Homo sapiens: one gene and its partners. The protein of the gene in region 4 interacts with the protein of the main gene of each other region in a pairwise test. Each region holds a gene or a part of one and is shown on either strand. Other genes may lie near its edges.

Region 1 (2,084 bases), on a different chromosome or scaffold from region 4:
CCAATGTTATAATCTATGTGCAAGCTAAAACCTTTTCTTATTATATTGCTCTGAAATTATCAAGATATTCTCCAAGAAATAGTGAATTAAAAGATTAAGCAGAAGTTTATCACCACAGAAGCATCTTTAACCTTTTGGTGTAGAATTCCTGTTTGCCTGGACAAGAAAATATAGATATTGAGAATGTTAAAGATGAGGAGGAGGAAGAAGACAAAGGAGAAGGGGATAAAGAAAAGAAGATAAAGGAGAGGAAAGGGATGGAAAGGGAGGAAGAAGGTTTAAGGGACAGGAAGAATGACGAGGAGGAGGAGGGTGAAGAAATAATCGTGACATATAACGTATTGGTAATTTTTTTATCTATAAGAAGAAAATATCACCATGGTTGATTATATTAATGCATCACAGCACATTTATTGTGATAAAAATTTGAGGCTCAAAACACATTTACCACATGAGAAAAAGTTCATGGTTAGATATCAGATATTGAAAGACAATCTTTCTTAGAGTATAATGGCTCTCCAGCCAATAAAAAAGTGAATATCTGGAGAACATCACTAATCAAATGCCAATATCTAGTTGATCAAGTTTTCTTCACACTATTGTCAAAAGGCAGGTGATCCAAGCAGCTGTTTTGTTATGGAATATGGAATTCCATATGGTTATGGAATAAAGTTTCTTGGAAGAATTGGGAATCTCACAGAAGACTATATTTCAAGTATTTATTCAATAGAATCCAGAAGACCAGTATCCCCCATAGCATGATGGGTGGCAGCAGCTGTATCTGTAGCCTCCATAGCCACAGCCATAGCCCAGTCTGCGGAAGCTGCCACATCCACAGCTATAGCCATAGCCCAGGCCACCGAATCCTCCACAGCCGTAGCCTAGGCCTCCATAGTAGCTGCCGGAGTAGCTCATGTTGTCAGAAGTGGTTAGCTGTTGTAGGTCAGTTTGGTGACTGTGACTGGACAGGAACATTTATATATACTCTGATGCATGTGGAAAGCCACACCTTTAAATGTCATCCCTTAGAACGTGTTACCTGAAAACTATGCCAACTATCTTGTTTTGTAACACCCATCCCACTCTCTTCCTTGTTTATGAAGCTAGTTATTTAGAAATTATACAACATGTTTTATTTTCTGCTTTATTTGGATTTCTAGATAAGTGTTTTGCCTCTAATAAAATGTAGTTGCATTTATATTCACTGTACATGTATGAGTTTCTGAGTTTCAAATGCCATAAACAAATCTCTATAGCTTCAAGTATTCTTCAAATTGCATCTCATGCAATTACATTTATCCTCTGATTGCACTCTTTCCTTTGACAGTCCATGGCTGCTGAGCCTTTTCTAAGCCAAGGATGTTATCTTTATTCTGCCAAGAATTCACAAAAATTGAAACATTATTGTTCTCTGAAATGGCAATCAACTATGATGTATGTCTTTATACAATGTGCTTTTAAAGTCAGCTGGGAACCACATTTTATAGTGGAATGATGATATTTAATTTTTAAAAGAGTCACAAATTAATGTCAAAGGAATTTCTCAAATATTATGCTTCATGTAGAGCCAGCCTGCTTAGTAGATACCATTAAAGTGTGCATAAAGTCCCTGCCAATCCCTTATGAATAGTTTCCTCTCCCCAAATTTAATCTTAGTCTAGATTCTAAATTTCGTACTATCATAGGATCATATAATTATAGAATTAAAGAGACTTGAGTCATCATTTATTTCAGTGTTCTTGTTACTGATGAGAAAAATGGATTCAGAGAGACAAGCAGAGTTACGCAACAGTGAAACTTAGTGGCAGATTAGGACTAAAACCTAAGTACTTTGATTATTGGCCTTAGTTCAGCAGATGCATTTGAAATCAAAGATTGCAGGTTAGGGTATATCTTCTCCCACAATGCCCAGCTGCCTTATATTTTTGTTTCATATCATCAATATAAATAAAAGCAAATGACATGAAACCAGTAAGCATATATGCTCAGCTACTCCTGCTATATATATATATATATGTATATATATATATATACATGTATGTATGTATATATACACTTTAAGTACTGAGGTAAATGTGCAAAAC
Region 2 (3,365 bases), on a different chromosome or scaffold from region 4:
TCAAGCCCATCTTCAGACGTCACAGTCTGGAAGTGAAATGTCCACAAACATCTGTGGCAGAAAAGGCTATACGGACCACCCAGTTGTGCTGCAGCTTTACAGAGCAAGGAAGGGTTGTGGCAAATAAATGATTAACCTGCCTCGACTGTGCTGAGGGCAACAAAGGCCATCTCACCAAAGGATTATTCGATGCCATTAAATCATCCCGTGACCTTCCTGCTTCCGAGTCCATGGCCTTTGCCCAGGGCATGTACTCCCCTGAGAGGCCTTCTGCCTAGAAAGATCTATGACTGGGTTCCAAAGTTGAGGCCTAGGTTTTTGCTGGGATTTAGATATTTTCAGGCACCATTTTGACAGCATTCAGGAAAACGGTTATTGACCCCATAGACTAGGGTAAGAATAAAGGCAATAAATTTGGTCTGACTCAGAATATAGGAGATCCATATATTTCTCTGGAAACCACAGTGTACACTAAAATGTGAAATTGAAGGTTTTGTTAAAAAGAAAAAGATAATGAGCTTCATGCTTTGTTTAATTACATAATGATTTCCATTACGCTATTTCTGTGAAATGCAGCAGGTTCTTAAACGTTATTTCAGTGGCATGGGCTGGAAGCTTATCACAAAAAGCCATGTGTGTGGCCTTATCAGAACAGAAAGAGACAGGCTGGTGCCCAAGGCTGCTGCCTGCTCCACCTTTTGCCAGCTCTGGACATCTGAGGACGTCCCGGCAGATCTGGAATGGGGCCCTCAACTGACCATTTGCTTCTCAGAATTTCAGTTTGAGACATGAGAGGTATAATCAGTTACTTTTCTCCCCCCAGAGAAACCCTTTTGTGAGGGGAGAGGAGCTATGGTATGTGGTTCAGCTGAAACACATACAACTGCATCCTTTTGGAGTCCTTTGCCAACAAAAACAGACCAACAGACCAGATGGTGTCCATGTTCAATATCATGTCTTGATGGACGCAGCTGATGACCTCAAATACTTGAGTGGTCTCATGGCTGTTAGATGGATTATTTGAAAAAAAAAAAAAAAAAAGAGAGAAAAAATAATTGATTTTTACATCAGAGATAGCAAACTAAGACCTGGGGAGGGGGGTCAGCTTTTATTTTATTTTATTTTTTTTAAGTTTGCTAGTTGGGTCAAATGTGAGGAGGAGGGAGTCTACCTGCCACCTCTTCTCTTGCCCCTCTTCTGCCCACACATCCAGCATCCAAAATCCATTCATTTAATGAATTGATAAAGTGCCGTGCAAACTGGTGCACAAACAGGCCCCCAGTCCACGCAGCCTGGCTCCTAGGAAAAGTGGTGACCGGGCGTGGGGGGGCATGCCGCAGCCCTGGGACACAGTCGGGCACCTTCCCCGGACCCCCAGGCCTTGGCTGTGCCTCAAGTCAGAGAGGGTCAGCCTTCAGGCCCCGGAGACGAGTGACTGGCCGATCATTTCACAATAAAATCACTCACTTTTGGCAACTTCACTTTTTTTAAGGCACAGTCAGTTCCTTTTCTCATGTACCTCACAAAAGATGAAGACCATGTAGTACTCTTTTTGGTAAAGTTACAGTGTTCATGTTAAATATCACTTTTTTCTACATTGTGTGGTAAAAAGAACTACGTTAATAGCTATATCTTAAATACTGTGATTTGACTTTTTGAAAAATATCCTAATACAAATATTTTACTAACTTACAATCACTCATTTAATAAGAAACATTTGGATTCTTTTGAAATCAGTGTTAATTGACTCATATTCTTAAAAGCCTGGCTCTTGACCCTATTGGAAACACAAAGGAAGCTGAAATCAAACATCTAAAATACACTGCGTACACGTGTGCGTGCACACACACACACACACACACACACACACAGCTCTTCATTTCTCCTGAGCCATGCAGAATTTACTTTCAATGTGGAAATCTGTTCCCTTTACCACACTGTATATGCACAGAGCACAAGAGAGGCTATCTCTAGTCACTTCCACCAGCGAGGCCTTAGACTCCGTATTAGAGGCCACCGATTTCATACAACAGTGTTTCGCTAAAGACCCTTCACTATTCTTGTTTAGTAAATAGCTGTCTGCTCTTCAGGGAACTGTTACCTATGGGTTATTACCAAAGAACGCTGGCAATTGGAAATGTCCTGATGGAAATTCTTTGCACGTGCCGGTTCTCTGGCATCCTCCAGGTGGCCCAACCCAAAGCAGAAAGCAGAAACCACAGACCCCGTGAGTCTCCCCATACCTTGTTTCCAATAACTTGGCAAAACTTCTTGGTGCATATTGGTTACACCCTCTGGGATTCATAATGCCATTAGGCTAAAACCCTAAGAGAGAGGGTTGACAGAAACACACGCGAGAATGAGGCAGATCCCAGAGCAAGGACTGGGCCCAGACTCTCCACATGTGCTCTACTAGTGAGTGCCTTATACTCTCAGTATTTTGGGGCTTACAGCTTCTTATTTGTGCTAAAAAGGTGCAGTTCCAAAGTAGGAACTGCCACACAGGCCCCAGCATCCTCTCTCCAACTTCATACCTCTCTCCTGGTGGGGGGAGCGGGCATCCAGGACCTCCGGAATCAAGGATGTGCAGAGAAGAGCGAAAGTAATTTTTCTAGTCACATGAACTGATTGGTTCCAGGCAATTAGAAAATGGCTATAAAATAACCTTAATTTTAAAAAAAAATCTTGGGTCTTCGTTTTCCTATTAGGAGACTGAACTGACCACATGTATTGATTTATATCCTGAATATATGGGAACTTCTGTGTTTGGGATGTCCTACTGTAAGACTGATGAATGTACAGAGTTAATTTCAGGGTACAGTTTTGCCTTAATGGTTTTAAAAAATAAACTATTTTTTAAAATTTTTTGGTGAGTTTTGAGTGATGCTGCGAGATGGACTGTTTGGTCTAAAAGAACCAAGTCCCCAGCTGTGGGGTCCGCCCTCCGCCAGAACAGTCCCTGCGCCCCTCATGGAGGCTGTCTCCACCTGCACAGTCCCTTTTGTGTCCTTCAACATACAGAATGGATCAAGGACAATCTGGCTCCGGAATACGACATCCTTTCGTCTGAAGTCACATACAACGGGAACTTTTAAAGCAGTGAGCATCTTAAAGTCCATCAGTGCACAAGTCAGTAAAAACTCTTTATTCATTCCTTCATGTGACAGTTGGCCTTGAGTAGTTACAAAGACAGAGCAGTTCCTGCCTCTCAGAATTCTAAGCAGACATTCCAGAGCTCACAGATCAGTGTCCCACCAGCTGCTACCCTGGAAGCTTCAGGGAGATGGGGAGCCTGGAGTAGGGGGGTGCTGCAGGAACCCCCGGCAGGCAGTGGGGCCAGGCTTCACAGGCACCCAGGGCTGAGT
Region 3 (3,500 bases), on a different chromosome or scaffold from region 4:
GAGGGAGAGGGCCACGAGGTGGGGAGTCTCTGGGCACCCCTCTCTCTGCCTTTCCCCCTCTTCAGAAGGACTCACTATCACAGACATACGGCTTGTCTCGGTCCTCCAGGGAAGCGGTGTCCTGGCGTTTCCGGAGACCCCCGATGCCATATGCCTGTGGGGAGAGTCAGGAGTGAGGGGCCAAGAAAGTGAGAAAACAGGCCAGGCGTGGTGGCTCACACCTGTAATCCCAGCACTTTGGGAGGCCGAGGCAGGCGGATCACGAGGTCAAGAGATCGAGACCACCTTGGCCAACATGGTGAAGCCCCGTCTCTACTAAAAATAGAAAAATTAGCTGGGCATGGTGGCGCGTGCCTGTAGTCCCAGCTACTCGGGAGGCTGAGGCAGGAGAATCGCTTGAACCCGGGAGGCGGAGGTTGCAGTGAGCAGATATTGCGCCACTGCACTCTAGCCTGTGACAGAGCGAGACTCCGTCTCAAAAAAAAGAAAAAAAAGAAAAAAGAAAGTGAGAAAACAGTGTCTTTTGCAAATTCAAATTGCAGCTGTACAAATGTCCTAGCTGTGGGGCCTTGAACCTCTCCAAGGTTCAGCTTCTTCCTCTGTGGCATGGGGATGAAGGTAGCTCTAACCCACTGCATAATCTCTGCTTTGCAAATGGCTTAATACAGATGAGCCTCAGTTTCCTCATCTGTAAAATGGGTATAAAATCCCCCACCCCTGCAGGCCGCTCTGGGGATTCAATGAGGTCAGACTGAGGTCAGACTGTGGCAGGGGCGGACCACTGCACCTGCTCCATGAATGAGACCTGTCATTGAGGGGAGCGGGGAAGAGGAGAAGCTTGGGGTGATACCTTTCCTTTGGCCCTGTTCTTCCTCCTGGGAATGTCATCCTCCAAGTCTTCCACCTCGAGGTCATGCGGAAACTCCAGCAACTGCTGTTTCTGGGCAATAGAGAAAGGAGACGGGTCAAGAAAGTGGGGGCCACTGACCTGCTTTTGAGGGGCTCTGGGCAAAGGTGGAGATTGGGGGTGAGAGTATAAGTCAGGAGTTCTTCCAAATAGAGATGAAGTCTGGGAGGATGGTGACTGGGATGCCCAACAGCCAGAAGAAACCGGGGGGGTTTCAGAGCAGGAACGTGAGGGCCCGGGCTGGTGGCAGGCAGGGGTGAGACGAAGCCATGCAGCGGGGGTCCCCCAGAGGTGGGCCCACCTGACAGTCCATAATGGTCTCCTCCTCCTTCAGCTCAATCTTCTTCTCCCCCGTCTCTGCACACAGTAGAGCCTCGAGGACCGGCCCTTCCGGGAGGCCACCCTCCTTCTTCAGGGGTGCTTCACAGTCTGGGGACAGGGCCATGGGGGGGTCAGATGGGGAAGTTGACCCCGGAGGACTCCTCAAACTATGCAGGTGGGGGGACCATGCTCTTTGCAGGAGGGAAGAGGCTGCAGAGGCAAGGATTTAACCACATGCCCTAGGAGGGAGGCCCAGACTCTGGGGAGACCCAGTCACGCCCTCAGATGCCCTGGGATGCACAGCAGGAGACACGGTCAGAACTTTGGATACACCAGAAAGCCTCAGAAAAAGACACAGTTAGGCCATCAGGCACACCCAGACCTACTCAGGGAAGACACAGCGACTCTCAAACATACCCAGACAAATATGGACAGATCCAGACACTCGCAGAGGAGACACAGGGACACCCGCAGGGGACATCCAGACAGATCGTCTGAGACAGATGCGGGAAGGAAGAGGCCCAGCCATGCTGTCTTTTTTCTTTTTTTTTTGAGACAGGGTCTCGCTCTGTCACCCAGGTTGGAGTGCAGTGGCGCAATCTCAGCTCACTGCGACTCCCAGGCTCAAGTGATCCTCCCACCTCAGCCTCCTGAGTAGCTGGGACTACAGGCAGAGTAGCTGGCATGCTACCACACTGGGCTAATTTTTGTATTTTTGGTAGAGATGGGGTTTCATCGTGTTAATCAGGCTGGTCTCAAACTCCTGAGTTCAAGCGATCCTCTGCCTCGGCCTTCCAAAGTGCTGGAATTACAGGCATAAGCCACACTCTCAGATACAGCCTAGAGACTCAAAGAGGTATAGCCAGATCCTTGGAGACACCCAGACACAGGGAGGAGACATAGCTGGACCCATGGGTACACTCAGAAATGCTCAGAGACAATTAGCTGGCCAGGCGCGTTGGCTCACACCTGTAATCCCAACACTTTAGGAGGCTGAGGCGGGTGGATCACTTGAGGTCAGGAGTTTGAGACCAGCCTGGCCAACATGGTAAAACCTCATCTCTACTTAAAAAAAAAAAAATACAAAAATTAGCCGGGTGTAGGGGCACATGCCTGTAATCCCAGCTACTCAGGAGGTTGAGGCAGAGAATCACTTGAACCCGGGATGCGGAGGTTGCAGTGAGCCGAGATCGTGCCACTGCACTCCAAACTGGGTGAAAAAAAAAAAGAAAGGAAGAAGGAAGGAAGGAGGGAAAGAAAAGAAAAAGAAAGAGAGAGAAAGAAAGAAAGAAGGAAGGAAAGAAAGAAAGAAAGGAAGGAAGGAAAGAAAAGAAAAAGAGAGAGAGAGAAAGAAAGAGAAAGAAAGAAAGAAAGAGAAAGAAAGAAAGAGGCCGGGTGCGGTGGCTCACGCCTGTAATCCCAGCACTTTGGGAGGCCGAGGCGGGCAGATCATGAGGTCAGGAGATCGAGACCATCCTGGCTAACACGGTGAAACCCCGTCTCTACTAAAAATACAAAAAATTAGCTGGGCGTAGTGGCAGGCGCCTGTAGTCCCAGCTACTCGGGAGGCTGAGGCAGGAGAATGGCGTGAACCCAGGAGGCGGAGCTTGCAGTGAGATCGCGCCACTGCACTCCAGCCTGGGCGACAGAGCAAGACTCCGTCTCAAAAAAAAAAAAGAAAAAGAAAAAGAAAAAAGAAAAAAAGAAAGAAACAATTAGCCCTCCAGATACACCTAGACCCTGGGGAAGACACAGCCAGATGAGATGCTTGGACACATAGCGGGGAGATACCGACATACTCAGGGAGAATCACTCAGCTAGATACACACAAACACACACAGGAGACAGACAGGAAGAGACACAGCCAGGTGGGCACTGCCACGCTCCTGGGTACACACAGACCCTCGGACTCAGGAAGAGAAACTGACCCCGAGGATCCCGATATTCCTAAACACATTCAAGGGTAAGTCCAGATCCTCTGATGGACTGGCACACACGTGCAGAAATACACCTGATACGCCAGACACCATCAGGAAGATTCTCCCAGACACTCCGAGGCACCCACACACCCACAGAAAGAGACGGCCGCACCGCCTAACACACCCAGACACACTCGGGAGGAGCCGGACACCCTGACAGACCAGACATACACAAGACACAAGCCTTCTAAGACACTTGGAGACACCTGGGAAGATACACCTAAGAGAGGAAAGAGCTCCAACCAGACACTGAGACATCCAGACGCCCTTGGGGAGATACAGAGGCAGACACC
Region 4 (3,500 bases):
TCAGCCTCGTCCTCCCCGTCTTCGTCATCTCCCGAGGATGGAGCGTCTGCAAGGCAGAGATGGCCGCAACCAATGCCCAACCTGCCCCAGGAGGCCCCCAGGTGCCCCTCCCAGATGGGGCAGGGTCCCCCATTTGGGCAGCACTTCCTGGGGGTGCCCTCCTCTCCACCAATGACCAGAGAGACCCCCAGCCGCTCCTGACCCACGCAGGGACTCAGGGAGCCCGGCACTCGGCTCCTTTCTGTAGCTGGCGTGGCCCCAGAGCTCACCTGTCACCCGCACACTGAAGTGGCACAGTACGCGCTGCGTGAGCCGCTGCCGGCAGCTGTAGGCCCCGGAGTCCTCGTGGGAGGCATTCAGCACCTGCAGCCGCTGGGGCCCCACCAGGACACGCTCCGAGGGCACCAGCCCTGTGCCATCCTTGACCCAGACAGTGGGCCCCATGGGACCACCCCCGGGCGGGGGACAGCTCAGCTCCACAGCATCCCCGCTGCCGAAGACCAACTGCTCCTGCTGGCCGGGCTCTGGGCCCGGGACTTCTGTGGGGAAGATGGGCAACCATGAGGCAGGCACCCCCAAACCCGGCACCGTTTACAGACACAGCAGTGGAAGCCTCGGCGGCCCTGAGTGAGGAAGGCTCTGACCCAGATCCAGGGTCCCACCAGACCAGGGGCTGGAAACTGTGTCCCAAAAGGGCCAAAGGTCTCTATCTTCAGCTTTGCCAACCAGTCTGTCCCAAGGACTCCGGTCTGCCTCGGTGTGACAGCCGCCTTCCCCACACAACCTGCAGCCAACCCCACAGCAGTGGCCCCATGATGCTTCACTCATGGACACGGAGAATTCAAATCTCAAAGTGTCACAAAATGTGACTCTTCGTTCTTTTAATTTGTTCAATTGCTTGGAAACATAAAATCCATGCTTGTCTCACAGGCGGCACCACGACGGGCAGGTGCTGCGGGCAAAGGGGACAGGCTGCCCTTTGCTGGCCTCTGACTGAAATGGAGCTCAGAGGGGGTGCCAGGGTTGGCCAGCCAGCCCCCTCGTGGTGCAGATTCACCCCAGGAGGGGTCCGTCCTCAGTAGCCCCCGCACCCCATATGAGCCTGAAAAGCAGTTCAGATGGACAGCCAGGGAACAGAACAGGCGAGAAGGAAGGAGGTGCAGGGTCACGTGGCCGTGTGGACGGTCTGGGGGGCGATGCGCGGGTTCACCGGTCAGAGCACAGGCCGGAGCAGCGCGAGGGGGCCGGGGCGGGGGTGGGGGCTCCTTGGGGTGGGCAAGGTTCTGTATCCTGCAGCTCCTATGGAAGCTCCACACGGCGGTCATGACGGAAAACATACCGAGAAGAGCAAAGTACAAACACGGCGCTGGGTCCGGCCAAGTGGGTCTCACAGGCCGGGGAGTGGGGAGGCCCAGGCGGGCCCTCAAGGGGGCCGGGGGGTGGAGTCCTGCTGCCTGCAGGGGGACTGGGGCCCCCTCACAGAGGACGACCAGGCTGGGGGCAGGAAGCTGTGAGAGCCAGGGCAGGTCAGCAGCCCTGGCCCCTCCCTGGGGGCTGAGAAGCTGGGGTGGGGGCCCACCCACAGGGGCAGATGTGCAGGTGGCCCCTGGGTCCCTCCCCAGTAGCTGCCCAGCTCCCCAGAGCCACCAAAGCCTGTGACCCAAGGACACACCATGGGCAGGGCTGGGGGGACAATCGCCCCTAGGCTTCCCTGCCAGGGCCAGACAATGCATGCAGGCAGGCGTCCCGGGCTTGGGGCCGGGACGGGGGTGGGTGGTCCCCCAGGCAGCCTCCTTCTTCAGACCCAGCTGGGCGGGTTGCGCCATCACTTGTCATTCTGCAGACGCGTGGCCTAGATTCGGGGGCCCAGCTGCCCACTCTGGCCACACCAGTCCCTGGCTGCCCGGCCAGGCCCTCTTCTGCCCAACCCACCTGATCCAGCCACACACGCCTAGTGCCCAGGGTGACCCTGCCAGCCAGAAGGGCCCACACTCATCCCCTGAAGCATCCGAAGGAGCCCTCGCCCCACCGGGACCCACAGCTCAAGGACTGCCCCTGTAGGGACCCCGCAGTCAGGGGGGCTCCTGGCCTGACCTCCAGCCCTCCGGTCCTGGCCAGTGTCTTGTGGGGACCACCCAGAGCTGGGAGCTGCTCGAGGCCCCCCAGAAGGCCGAGAACAGGCTGGTTATGGCAGCCTCAGCTGCAGGCCCTGGCCCAAGGGCAACAGCCGGTTGGTTCCGGTTTGGTCTGAGTGGCGACAACAGGTCAAGCCATCCACACAAGTATTTGCTTCAGCCTGGTCCAGCACGGGGGGACGGGGGACACAGCAGCCCCAGGCCAGCCACACCAGTGGCCATCTGCCCGTGTGTGGTGGGGAGGGTGCAGCCCTGACTGCCCCCCCCACTGCCTGCCTGCTAGGTGCCAGCAGAGGCCAGGGTACCCCAGCAGGGGCTGGGTGGCGAGCACCAGGTGAAGGACAGTGTGACACGGGGCATGAGTGGGTGCTATAAGTTCAGGGTCTGACTCCCACTGGGAAGTCAGCAGTTGGGTGGAGCCCCCATACCCCACCCAGCTGCCAGGCATGGGGAGAGCTATAGCCCCCCAGCAGCCCTAGGAAGGGTTCTTTCTTTCTTGATCCACAAAAGGGAGGCCCCACTGACACCACACAGACACTGGTGCCCAAACACGTTGGAGACAAAACTCCTGCTGTACCCAAGGCGGGGTAGGAGGCAACGCGTCCCACCTCCCACCCTTCTATGGATCCCACAACACGTGCTCCTGCCGGCGCCCCAACCCCACACAGTGCCGACCTCAACTTGGGCTCCACATGCCAACGACAGCCCTCTGCTGTGTCCCAGAGTCTCCACAACTCTGCCACTCACTGGTCCTGTACCTCAGTTTCCCCCACTGTGGCACAAAGTAAAAATCCCACCCCACAGGCCCAGGAGCTCAGGGAGGGCACCAGGCCCTGAAATGGCTGCAGGAGTGAGGGTAGGGGTGAGAGGCGCTCCCTGCCCTGGGTCTCTGGCCCCAAGACTGATGTCCATTAGGCAGGGTGCTGGGGACGGCCAAACTCTGGCCTGGGGAACCTTTCTCCAGGCTCTGGGTCTCTGCAGTGGAGGCCCAGTGCATGTGAGGGAGCATGGCTGAGAGGATGGGGGAGCCTTGCTCCATCATAAGCCCCTCGGGTTGACCCCAGAGAACAAGGATCAAATCCAGACTCGCTTCCGGAGCTGGCTGCCCCAGGGGTTTATTTGGGTTTTGGGGTGAGATGAGGGCCTGGGGTCAGGAAACAACACATTCTGGTTTCGGATGCACATGAAGTTCTCTGCAGCTCTCTGGGGTACAGGAGGTATTGCCAGGTAGGAGCTATAAAATAGCCTAAGAGGAGGGGGCCCCCAAAAGTCCAGCCTCCCTGTCTCCCCACCTGGAGTTTCACAATAAAGTCCGGAAAAAAGGGATCTGGAGGCTGGGCAGGCTAAAGAGGGCTTGCCAGGGTT

Evidence for each region. The genes of interacting proteins can lie anywhere in the genome.
Region 1: the proteins of FGFR3 (region 4) and KRTAP19-7 interact in binary tests that used the Homo sapiens proteins (3 or more experiments, as listed by UniProt).
Region 2: the proteins of FGFR3 (region 4) and PPARA interact in binary tests that used the Homo sapiens proteins (3 or more experiments, as listed by UniProt).
Region 3: the proteins of FGFR3 (region 4) and DPF1 interact in binary tests that used the Homo sapiens proteins (3 or more experiments, as listed by UniProt).

What each region holds. Positions count from the first base shown.
Region 1 is NC_000021.9:30,560,375-30,562,458, forward strand, and holds KRTAP19-7 (keratin-associated protein 19-7), read right to left. Parts: upstream 941-2,084; 5' UTR 916-940; coding exon 724-915; 3' UTR 501-723; downstream 1-500. UniProt on the Homo sapiens protein: In the hair cortex, hair keratin intermediate filaments are embedded in an interfilamentous matrix, consisting of hair keratin-associated proteins (KRTAP), which are essential for the formation of a rigid and resistant hair shaft through their extensive disulfide bond cross-linking with abundant cysteine residues of hair keratins.
Region 2 is NC_000022.11:46,240,891-46,244,255, forward strand, and holds the end of PPARA (peroxisome proliferator-activated receptor alpha), read left to right. Parts: 3' UTR 1-2,865; downstream 2,866-3,365. UniProt on the Homo sapiens protein: Ligand-activated transcription factor. Key regulator of lipid metabolism. Activated by the endogenous ligand 1-palmitoyl-2-oleoyl-sn-glycerol-3-phosphocholine (16:0/18:1-GPC). Activated by oleylethanolamide, a naturally occurring lipid that regulates satiety.
Region 3 is NC_000019.10:38,217,723-38,221,222, forward strand, and holds part of DPF1 (zinc finger protein neuro-d4), read right to left. Parts: intron 1,337-3,500; coding exon 1,209-1,336; intron 941-1,208; coding exon 851-940; intron 155-850; coding exon 76-154; intron 1-75. UniProt on the Homo sapiens protein: May have an important role in developing neurons by participating in regulation of cell survival, possibly as a neurospecific transcription factor. Belongs to the neuron-specific chromatin remodeling complex (nBAF complex).
Region 4 is NC_000004.12:1,796,293-1,799,792, reverse strand, and holds part of FGFR3 (fibroblast growth factor receptor 3 isoform 1 precursor), read right to left. Parts: intron 540-3,500; coding exon 270-539; intron 47-269; coding exon 1-46.